Linked DNA regions of Homo sapiens: region 1 is linked to region 2. A link means that fine-mapping ties the variant in region 2 to the expression of a gene that starts in the linked region. Tissue or cell type: whole blood. Region 2 holds a variant in brackets; the other region holds the start of a gene. Each region is shown on its reference strand, or each on the opposite one.

Region 1 (5,384 bases), not on the chromosome of region 2:
TGGCTAATCATTAGAATCACTCCAGAAGCTTGTTACATACAGACCCAGAGCCAGTGAATCAAGGATTTGGTGGTGGGGCCCAGAGCCTGAATATTAAGCAAGTTCTTCGTTTTAGAAATGAGGAAACCAAGGTTGGGAGAAGCTAAGCAACTTACTCAAATACATAGGGTATTTCATTTTAAATTTAATTTTATTACTTTATCTTTTGAATTTTCTTACCCCAGTTGTACTTTTGTGTAAATGTGATTTCATTTACGGCTTTGTGTTGACATATTCATTAAAATGAAGAAATAAAAGATGAGAAACAGTTTTAAAAATTATATAATGTTTATTGATTAGAATGAATATGATGCAATCTGGTTTTCTGTGTTCAGATTCCTGACCTCTGGAGTTAACCTTTCTTTGTAAAGATTAGACAGCAGGCAGGGAAGAATGCCTTTGAAACTGAGAGCAAAGACTGGCATGCAATTTACATTGATGTCCTGGTGCTGTGCATAATAAGTTGCTTAAACATGACAGCAGGATAGGATTTTACATAAAATTTATTTATAAATGGTAAAGATGTTTCCAACCTCTGCTGAACTTCCTCATAGAATGTTCATCAGAAAACAAAGTTTCTATCTACTCTTTCTTCCAAGACTTCAACTCCTACCACTGACATCATGACCCTCAGTTCTATTCCCCTAGCCCTGCCCACTCCCCTGAAATCCAGATCCATAAATCCAACCACCGCCTGGGTATCTCAGTTTGGCTGTCCCTCCATCAACTCAAATTTGGCTGACACAGTTTTGGATTCTAGAGCATGCAGGCATTCTGTATGTGCTGTGCCTTTGCACTCACTCTTCCCTCCAGACCCCGTCCTTCCTCACTTTGCCAGTTCCAACTTCTCTCTGAAGACTCAGTTTAGGTACAGGCTCCTTTAGGAAATTTTTTTTTGACTCTACCTAGCCCAGACTCAGTTCATCTACGATATTAATCTGCAGTGTCATGCACTAGCACAAAATATTTGCTGAATGAAAGAATGAGAGTTAACTTTTAGTCAGGCATAAAGATAAAAAACCAAAGTCTTTTACTCCGGTGTGGAGTGTTTTCAGGATTCCTACCAATTAGGAAGGTGTTTGATTCTTCAAACTCAGAAACACCTCCCCTTAACTGATGGATTCTTCAAACTCAGCATCAGTTAGAGGGCATTAGGGCACTTCTCAAACCCTGCATTCAGGGAAGATGTCTGTTGTGGGGTGGTCTGGCCTACTTGGCCTGAGCCAAGGTTCTGGGCAGTTCTGTTCAGTTACACATGCATGCGTTGAGCATTGATTCAAGCCTGGCCTGGGCACTAGGCATGGTTTTAGATATTAGGGACATATTCTGTTTTCCTTGCCTTAAGATACCAGTCTAGTAGGAGCCACTAAGGCCCCTTTTTGAGCCTGGACTTCGCATTCAAACATACCCTGCTTCTAATCAAGTCATCTATTGGCAGTGACCTTGGGCAAATCATAGTCTCTCCAAGCATTACTTTTCTAATTGAAACAAGAACCTCTCTCTATACCCCAGATTTATTTTGAGGATTATGAGTTAATTCATAGCTAAAATGCTTAGCACCTAACAGCACATAACCCACACATACTTTTCAATTGCGTATTACTAAAAAGAAGGAATGATTTCCTAGAGGAGGTGCTTCTTCTGGCCAAGGGCTGATTCAGAGCCTTAATTAACTAAATAGATCAAGCATATCTAACTGGTCACCGGAAGTGGTCCATGAGGCTGCAGCAATGGGAAGGTGTCAGAGCAGGGGTTGGGAAAAAGACATAGAGAGAAACGTGCATGTCCGTAGTGGAGGGGAGCTCTTAGGATGTCTACAGATTTCCAAGACAATAATTGAAATGAACAAAGGCAAGGGATGACCAATAAGAGCTTCATTTCTTTCCTTTATCACCTTTCCCTTGTTCTTCAGCTCCAGCTGTGCCCACAGACACCACAGGGAAGCCTCTGAACACAGGGGTTTGAACCAGGGCCTCTCTAAGTCTTTTCCAACTCTGATACCCTGAAGTTCTCAGAAACTTCCATAAATTTTGGCTGAAGAAGCCATAGCAAACTTGTCAGATGGTTTCTTACCTTTAACTCAGCCATTTTCTCTCTCCTCTATGTGTGGTGACTTCAGGAAACCCAGGCCCAGAGGATATAAAGCCACAATGCTTCTTTCTCCTTCAAACCACTCTTTGGATATTCCGGTTCCCACTGCTTCACTGCGCTTCACTGGTCAGTGCGTCACTCAAACTAGCTGAAAGAATTGTCTAACTCATACACAGGGACAAAGTCCAGCAAGCTTATTTAACCGGTTACACAATTGCCTTTGGTTTTTACAGTTTGTTCCTAAGTGTTTCCAGAGGCTTGGTTCCTCTTCACCTGAGGTAGAGATTGACCAATTATTTATTCCAGTTAAAAGTAGGCTTATTTCAAAAGGCAGAGAATTTGAAGCTATCGGGGAAAGGAACTGTGGCAGATAGTGCCTGCTGTGTGTGGTGGAGGATTCTCTGCTCAGTCCTGACTCAGGCTAGGAAGGAACAGGGCAGTGCTGAGTCTCCTGGAGAGCAGTGAGAAAACCCCCAGGCATTTACCAGCTGCAGATGTGTACACTGGGGTAAGATGTTTACACACAGCCACCTGAAGACAGGGACCAGGACCAGAACCAGTTTTCTGCAGGTGCCTCCCAGGAATGAGCTCAGGTTCTTGGGTGAACCATTCAGAGCCTGAGATATTTCACTTAGAGCAAACTGATATGTTTCCTACTGCTCCTTTTAATTTCTTAAAGTACGTTTAGTTTTCTTATAAATTCTTTAAGAGTTTTGTTTCCTAATGCCTCTATACTTCTAAAACAGACCAAGGGATTATTCTCCAGCCACCTCCTCTATGACTCCCTTGTTCTTCATCTTGGCCGCTCTCCTTGGTCATTGGCAGGTAGCAGCTTCATGACTAGTGGTGTTCAGAAAGGAGAAAACATATATTGAGTTTCTGCTTTTGTCAGATTTTTCCATATCTAACTTCACAAAAACAATCTTGTAAATTAGGCATTATCACAACTCAAATGCCAACAGATGAGGGAGGAAGTGTAAGTGAATAAAGTAGGCTAGCTGATTTTTCAAGATAAGATGAAGCTCCAATTTTTAACCATTGGTAATTAGAGTGAGAGAGACAGAGAAACCACCCTGTGGTAGATGGCAAAAAATGCTCCAATTCCTCCTATCCTTGTATGTGTGCCCCTTTGAATGTGACTTTGCTGTTCCTCCCATCAAGAGGTAGGGTCTTTTTCTTTGGCTAGTAGCAAACATGACACAGAGTTTGAAACATGCCTGTGCCTTAGGACAGGGCCCATTCTTGCAGCCTGAGACCACAGTGCAGAGAAGCTGGGCTGGCCTCCAGAGGTCCAGGCAACAGCCCTGCAAGCCCCACAGGAACTGCCAGACATGTGAATGAGGCAGTCTGGCTGCCAGGTGACTGCAGAACATGTGTGATCCCAGGCAAGACCAGCAGAAGAACCACCAGTTAAATCTGGCCCGAACTGCTGAGCCACAGAATTGGGAACAAATAGAATGGTGTATTTCACACTACTAAATTTTGGGGTGGTTTGTTAAGCAGTGATAAATAACTGATATAATCATGCAGGTTGAAAAACATGTGCATATTTGAAGTGGCCACAGGCTGCTAGTTTGAGACCCTCTGCTTTAGATAAATGGGCTTAAACAACCTCCAAGGGTCCCCAGGCTCCAGCATACTGCAGTAGCAGCAGAATTATTGCCTGTGTATGAGGTGCTAGCACAGACTGGGCCAGACCAAAGGGGACATGTTGATAGGAAACATGCTGGTAGCAAACCATGTGGACTGATGCCTACGGACCGGGCAGCTGATAGGAAACCTCAGCATATGTCAGCATAGACAGATGGCATTGTGGCATTATATAAACTATTCTGGAATTCATATGCAAACCTAGGAGGAAGGTAGGTGGAGGCCCTAGCTTTATTGAGGCTAAGTTTTCACTATTCCTATAACATGCAGACTCTGAAACTGAATTCGAAGAAAATATCTCCTGTGTATCTAAGTTTATGAGTACCTTGGGCCTTCAATCTCTATTGATCTTGGAAGTTAGCAGTTGGTCATTAGATAAACAAATGGGAGCTAATAAAAGACAAAGGGAAATCTTTACTGCCTTATTTTTCAACAAACTTTCTATGTTACTTCCATTGAACCAGTTGTGAAGGCAGATTTAAGAAGTGTTTCAGTTCTTTCCTAAGGTATGAGAGACTTCTGAAGGGGTAAGAAAGTGTTAACAGTTCCTTGACTGGATTAAAATTACTTTGAGGGGCTTGAAAATATTTAAAGTTGAATACATCTTTCACTAAACTTTAGGGATTCCTTCTAAAAGGAGAGAATACACACAGGGGATATTAAAATATTATTTTATTATTTAATTTTTTTTTTGAGACAGGTTCTCTGTCATCCAGGCTGGAGTGCAGTGGCACAAAAATGGCTCACTGAAGCCTCAACCTCCTGGGCTAAAGCGATCCTCCCATCTCAGCCTCCTGAGTAGCTGGGACTACAGGCACACACCACCACACCCGGCTACTTTAAAAATTTTTTAGTAGAGATGAGGTCTCGTCATGTTGCCCAGGCTGAACTTGAACTCCTAGGCTCAAGCAATCCTCCCACTTCAGCCTCCCAAAGTGCTGGGATTACAGACGTGAACTCCTGCACCTGACTTAATGTTTTTTTTTAGAGACAGAGTCTTGCTGTGTCATCCAAGCTGGAGTGCAGTGGCATCATCACAGCTCACTGCAGCCTTTAACTCCCAGGCATAAGCCATCCTCTGGCCTCAGCCTCCCAAAGTATTGGAATTACAGGCATAAGCCATCATGTCCTGCTGGGATTGGAGAATAAATAACTTACACAGCTACAGATAAGTTCTGATTCTATGTCTAATGGCTTTCCATTTTAATTAATGTAATTATACATTCATTTATTTAACAATTTTTGAAAACCATCACAACATAGTGTAAGTGCTCTGACAGGAAAGAGCCCAGGGATCTAGGGGAAGCACTAGTGGGCACGTAGCCCAGACGAGCAGAGCCAGGGAGGGCTTCCCAGAGAAGACTATGTCTGAGCCAAGTCCCATAGAGTAAGAGTTGGATAGAAAGTGGAAAACATTACATCCAGGAATTGCTACAAGGTAATGTGAAGCAGGGTGTGACAGGTCTACAGAGTAATCACTCCAAAACGGAGTTAGGCATCAGAGGACTCCAGGACAGATGTCTCCGAGAAAAAGATGGAACGGAGAGATTACCTGATATACTTGATGGTACTGAGCGAGGTTTTACACCTTGGTTGGAGTTTAG
Region 2 (5,384 bases):
GAGAATCACTTGAACCCAGAAGGCAGAGGTTGCAGTGAGCTGAGATCACACCATTGTACTGCAGCCTGGGTGACAAGCGCAAAACTCTGTCTCAAAACAAAACCCAAAGAAAAACAAAAAAAGCCAGGCACGGTGGCTCACTCCTGTAATCTCAGCACTTTGGGAGGCTGAGGAGGGTGGATCACCTGAGGTCGGGAGTTTGAGACCAGCCTGACCAACATGGAGAAGTCCCATCTCTACTAAAAATACAAAATTAGCCGGACGTGGTGGTGCATTCCTGTAATCCCAGCTACTTGGGAGCCTGAGGCAGGAGAATCACTTGCACCCAGGAGGCGGAGGTTGCGGTGAGCCAAGATCATGCCATTGCACTCCAGCCTGGGCAACAAGAGTGAAACTCTGTCTCGAAAAAAAAAACAAAACAAACTAACAACAAAAAACATTCTCTTAAGCCAAAGCCTAATCCAGAGGAGGGCCCTAACTGTCTTTAAATTTTTTTTTTTTTTTTTTTTGAGATGGAGCCTTGCTCTGTTGCCCAAGCTGGAGTGCAGTGGCGCAATCTCGGCTCACTGCAACCTCCGCCTCCTGGGTTCAAGCGATTCTCCTGCCTCAGCCTCCCAAGTAGCTGGGCTTACAGGTGCCTGTCATGCCTAGCTAATTTTTGTATTTTTCAGTAGACATAGGGTTTCGACATGTTGGCCAGGCTGGTCTCAAACTCCTGACCTCAGGTGATCCACCTGCCTCAGCCTCCCAAAGTGCTGGGATTACAGGCGTGAGCCACTGTGCCCAGCCAATTTTCTTTAATTTTATGGAGGTTGAGAGAGGTGAGGAAGCTGCAGAAGAAAAGTTAGAAGGTACCAGAATTTGGTTCGTGAAATTTAAGAAGCTGTCTTTATAACCTAAAAGTGCAAGGTGAAGCAGCACCTGCTGATATAGAAGCTGCAACAAATTATCCAGAAGATCTAGCTAAGATAATTAACAAAAGTGGCAACACTTAACGACAGATTTTCAGTGTAGATGAAACAGCCTTATATTGGAAGAAGATGCCATCTAGGACTTTTATAGCCAGGAAGGAGAAGTCAATATCTGATTTCACAGCTTCAAATGATAGGCTGACTCTCTTTTTAGGGGCATTAGCTTCATTATGTAAATCTGCTCGGCTTATGCCCTATAAATGGAACAACAAAGCCTGGATGACAGCATATCTGTTTATAGCATGGTTTACTGAATTGTTTTTTTTTTTTTTTTAATTTTTAACTTATTGGCTGGGCATGGTGGCTTACACCTGTAATCCCAGCACTTTGGGAGGCTGAGGTGGGAAGACTGCTTGAGCCCAGGAGTTCGATACCAGCCTGAGCAACATAGTGAGACTCCACCAATTAAAAAAATTAATTTTTATGGGTGTATAGTAGGTGTATACATTTATGGGGCACATGAGATATTTTAATACAAGTATACAATGTGTAATAATCACATCAGGATAAATGAGGTATCTATCACTTCAAGCATTTATGATTTCTTTGTGTCACAAACTTTCCAATTATACTTTTTATTTTTAAGTGTACAATAAACTGTTTACTGTAGTCACCCTGTTGTGCCATCAAATACTACATCTTATTCACCCTATTTAAATATATATATACACATTTGAGACACAGTCTTGTTTTGTCACCCAGGCTGAAGTGCAGTGATGTGATCTTGGCTCACTGCAACCTCCGGCTCACAAGTTTAAGCAATTCTCATGCCTCAGCCTCCTGAGTAGCTGAGACTACAGGTGTGCACCACCACGCCCGGCTAATTTTTTGTATTTTTAGTAGAGACGGGGTTTTGCCAAGTTGGCCAGGCTTAACTATATTTTTGTACCCATGAGCCATACCCACTCCTCCCGCCTCCACTACTGATCTCAGCCTCTAGTAATCATCATTATATACTCTATCTCCATAAGTTCAATTGTTTTAATGTTTAGTTCCCACAAATGAGTAAGAACATGTAAAGTTTGTCTTTCTGTGCCTGGCTTATTTCACTTAACATGATGGCCTCTAGTTTCATCCACGTTGTTGCCAATGACAGGTTCTCATTCTTTTTTATGGTTGAATAGTACTCCATTGTGTGTGTGCATATATACACACACACACACACACACACACATATATACACACACACACACACACACAGAGCACATTTTCTTTACCCATTCATCTGTTAATGGACACTTAGGTTGATTCCAAATCTTGACTGTTGTGAATGGTGCTGCAATAAACATTTGTATGTCTTCTTTGAGAAATGTCTATTTAGATATTTTGCCATTTTTAAGTTGGAATTTACTGAATATTTAGATTTACTGCTCAGAGAAAAAGATTCCTTTCAACATATTACTGCTTACTGGCAACACACCTAGTCATCCAAGAGCTTTGATGGAGACATACAAGAAGACTGATGTTGTTTTCATACCTGTTAATATTGCATTCAGGTGGCAGCCCACAGATCAAGGAGTAATTCTGACTTTCAAGTTTTATTATTTAAGAGATATATTTCATATGGCTTATAACCACCATAGATAGTGACTTCTTGGATGGATATGGGCAAAATAAATTGAAAATCTTCTGGAGAGGATTCACCATTCTAGATGCCATTAAGAACATTTGTGGCCAGGCATGGTGGCTCATTCCTGTAATCCCAATGCTTTGGGAGGCAGAGGCAGTCATATTGCTTGCTTGAGTCTAAGCTGGGCTTGAGTCCGAGAGTTTGAGACCAGCCTGGGCAACGTGGTGAAACCCTGTATCTACTAAAAATAGAAAAAATTAGGTCGGGGGAGAGGTGGGACACAGTGGCAGGTGCCTGTAGTCCCAGCTACATGGGAGGCTGAGGTGGGAGGATCACCTCAGCCTGGGAAGTTGAGGTTGCAGTAAGTATGGTTTACTGATTTTTTTTTTTCTAATGCTTAACTTATTGGCTGGGCATGGTGTGATCATACCACTGCACTCCAGCCTGCGTGATGGGAGTGAAACTCTGCCTCAAAAATAAATAAATAAAAAAAGAATTTCCTACCACCAAATTTTTAAAAAAAGAACATTCATAATTCATGGGAGGAGCTCAAAATATCAACATTAACAGGAGTTTGGAAGAAGTTGATTCCAACCCTCATGGATGACTTTGATGGGTTCAAGACTTGAGTGGAGGAAGTAACTGCAGAAGTAACTGCAGAAATAGCAAGAGAACTAGAATTAGAAGTGGAGCCTGAAGATAAGGCTGAATTGTTGCAATCTCATGAGAAAACTTGAATGGATGAGGAG[T/C]TGCTTCTTATGGATAAGCAAAGAAAGTGGTTCTTAACATGGAATCTACTCCTAGTAAACAGCCTGTGAATATTGTTGAAATGGCAACAAAGGATTTCAAATATTACATAAATTTAGTTAATAAAGCAGTAACAGGGTGTGAGAGAACTGACTCCAATTATGAAAGAAGTTCTACTGTGGGGAAAATGCTATCAAACAGCATCACATGATTCAGAGAACTCTTTCGCGAAAATAAGAGTTAATAGATGCAGCAATTCTTCTTCTTCTTCTTATTATTATTTTGAGATGGAGTCTTGCTCAGTCACCCAGTCTGGAGTGCAGTGGCGCGATCTCAGCTCACTGCAAGCTCTGCCTCCCGGGTTCACGCCATTCTCTTGCCTTAGCCTCCCGAGTAGCTGGGACTACAGGCACCTGCCACCATGCCTGGCTAATTTTTTTTTTTTTTTTGTATTTTTAGTAGACACGGGGTTTCACCATGTTAGCCAGCATGGTCTTGATCTCCTGACCTCGTGATCCACCCCGCTCGGCCTCCCAAAGTGCTAGGATTACAGGTGTGAGCCACCGCGCCTGGCTATTATTGTCTTATTTAAAGAAATTGCTACCACCACCCCCAGCCTTCGGCGACCACGACCCTGATCAGTCAGCAGCCATCAACGTTGAGGCAAGACCCTCCACCAGCAAAAAGATTGTGACACGCTCAAGGCTCAGGTGATTGTTAGCATTTTTTTTTAGCAAGAAAGTATTTTTAACTTTTATTTATTTATTTATTTATTTATTTATTTATTTATTTATTTTTGAGATGGAGTCTCGCTCTGTAGGCCAGGCTGGAGTGCGATGGCGTGATCTTGGCTCACTGCAAGCTCCGCCTCCCGGGTTCATGCCATTCTCCTGCCTCAGCCTCCCGAGTAGCTGGGACTACAGGCGCCCGCCACCACACACAGCTAATTTTTTGTATTTTTAGTTGAGACGGGGTTTCACTGTGTTAGCCAGGATGGTCTCATTCTCCTGACCTCGTGATCTGCCTGCCTCGGCCTCCCAAAGTGCTGAGATTACAGGCATGAGCCACTGTGCCCGGCCTATTTATTTATTTTTTTGAGACAGAGTTTTGCTCGTCACCCAGGCTGGAGTGCAATGGTGCAATCTCGGCTCACTGCAACCTCCGCCTCCCACGTTCAAGCGATTCTCCTGCCTCAGCCTCACAAGCAGCTGTGATTACAGGCATGCGCCACCACGCCTGGCTAATTTTTTTGTATTTTAGTAGAGACGGGGTTTCACCATGTTGGTCAGGCTGGTCTCGAACTTCTGACCTCAGGTGATCCGCCCGCCTCTGCCTCCCAAAGTGCTGGGATTACAGGTGTCAGCCACCGCGCCTGGCTGTATTTTTATATTTTTTCGAGATAGAGTCTTGTTCGGTCGCCCAGGCTGGAGTGTAGTGGTGTGACGTCAGCTCACTGCAACCTCCTCCTCCTCCTGGATTCAAGCGATTCTCCGGCCTCAGCCTCCTGAGTAGCTGGGATTACAGGCTCCCGCCACCACGCCCAGATAATTTTTTTGTATTTTTTGTAAAGACGGGGTTTCACCATGTCAGCCAGGCTGGTTTTGAACTCCTGACCTCAAGTGATTCACGCACCTTGGCCTCCCAAAGTGCTAGGATTACAGGCGTGAGCCCCCACGCCCGGCCGCAAGAAAGTATTTTTAAATTAAGGTATATACATTTTTTTTAGACACAATGCTATTGTACCCTTAACAGACTACAGTATAGTGTAAACATAACTTTTACGTGCACTGGGAAGCCAAAATATTTCTATGATTCACTTTATTGAATACTAGCTTTATCACAGTTGTCTGGAAACAAACCTGCACTATCTCTGAGGTGTGCCTGTATTTAGAATAATCAGTATCCTTCCTCTCTAACCATTCCACCATTTTTTATCCCCTTATCTTGCTTTATTTTTCTTCTTAGAATTTATCATTTCCTTCTCTATCAGGGCAGTCCCAGGCACCAACAGTGCCTGTAGTATAATAGCTACTTGAGAAATATTTGAATGAATGAGTCATAAAGAACTACTATATCTTCCCAGAAAATTAACCTGT

The links. PIP is the estimated chance that this variant, and not a neighbour inherited with it, causes the effect. A credible set is the group of variants that fine-mapping cannot tell apart.
Region 1: HGD starts here. The variant in region 2 is the best candidate, but not a certain one, in a credible set for the expression of HGD in whole blood (TOPMed, PIP 0.59).

What each region holds. Positions count from the first base shown.
Region 1 is chr3:120,679,985-120,685,368 of GRCh38, forward strand. It overlaps HGD (homogentisate 1,2-dioxygenase), which reads right to left and starts at 2,255. Exons shown (of 14, transcript NM_000187.4): 1 at 2,113-2,255. The coding sequence starts at 2,127. RABL3 (RAB, member of RAS oncogene family like 3) reads right to left here. Exons shown (of 8, transcript NM_173825.5): 8 at 4,954-5,384.
Region 2 is chr12:8,006,214-8,011,597 of GRCh38, forward strand. No RefSeq gene overlaps it. Among named protein-coding and RNA genes, the nearest start is that of FOXJ2, 24 kb to the right of the region's middle. The variant T/C (reference allele first, on the strand shown) is at 3,291.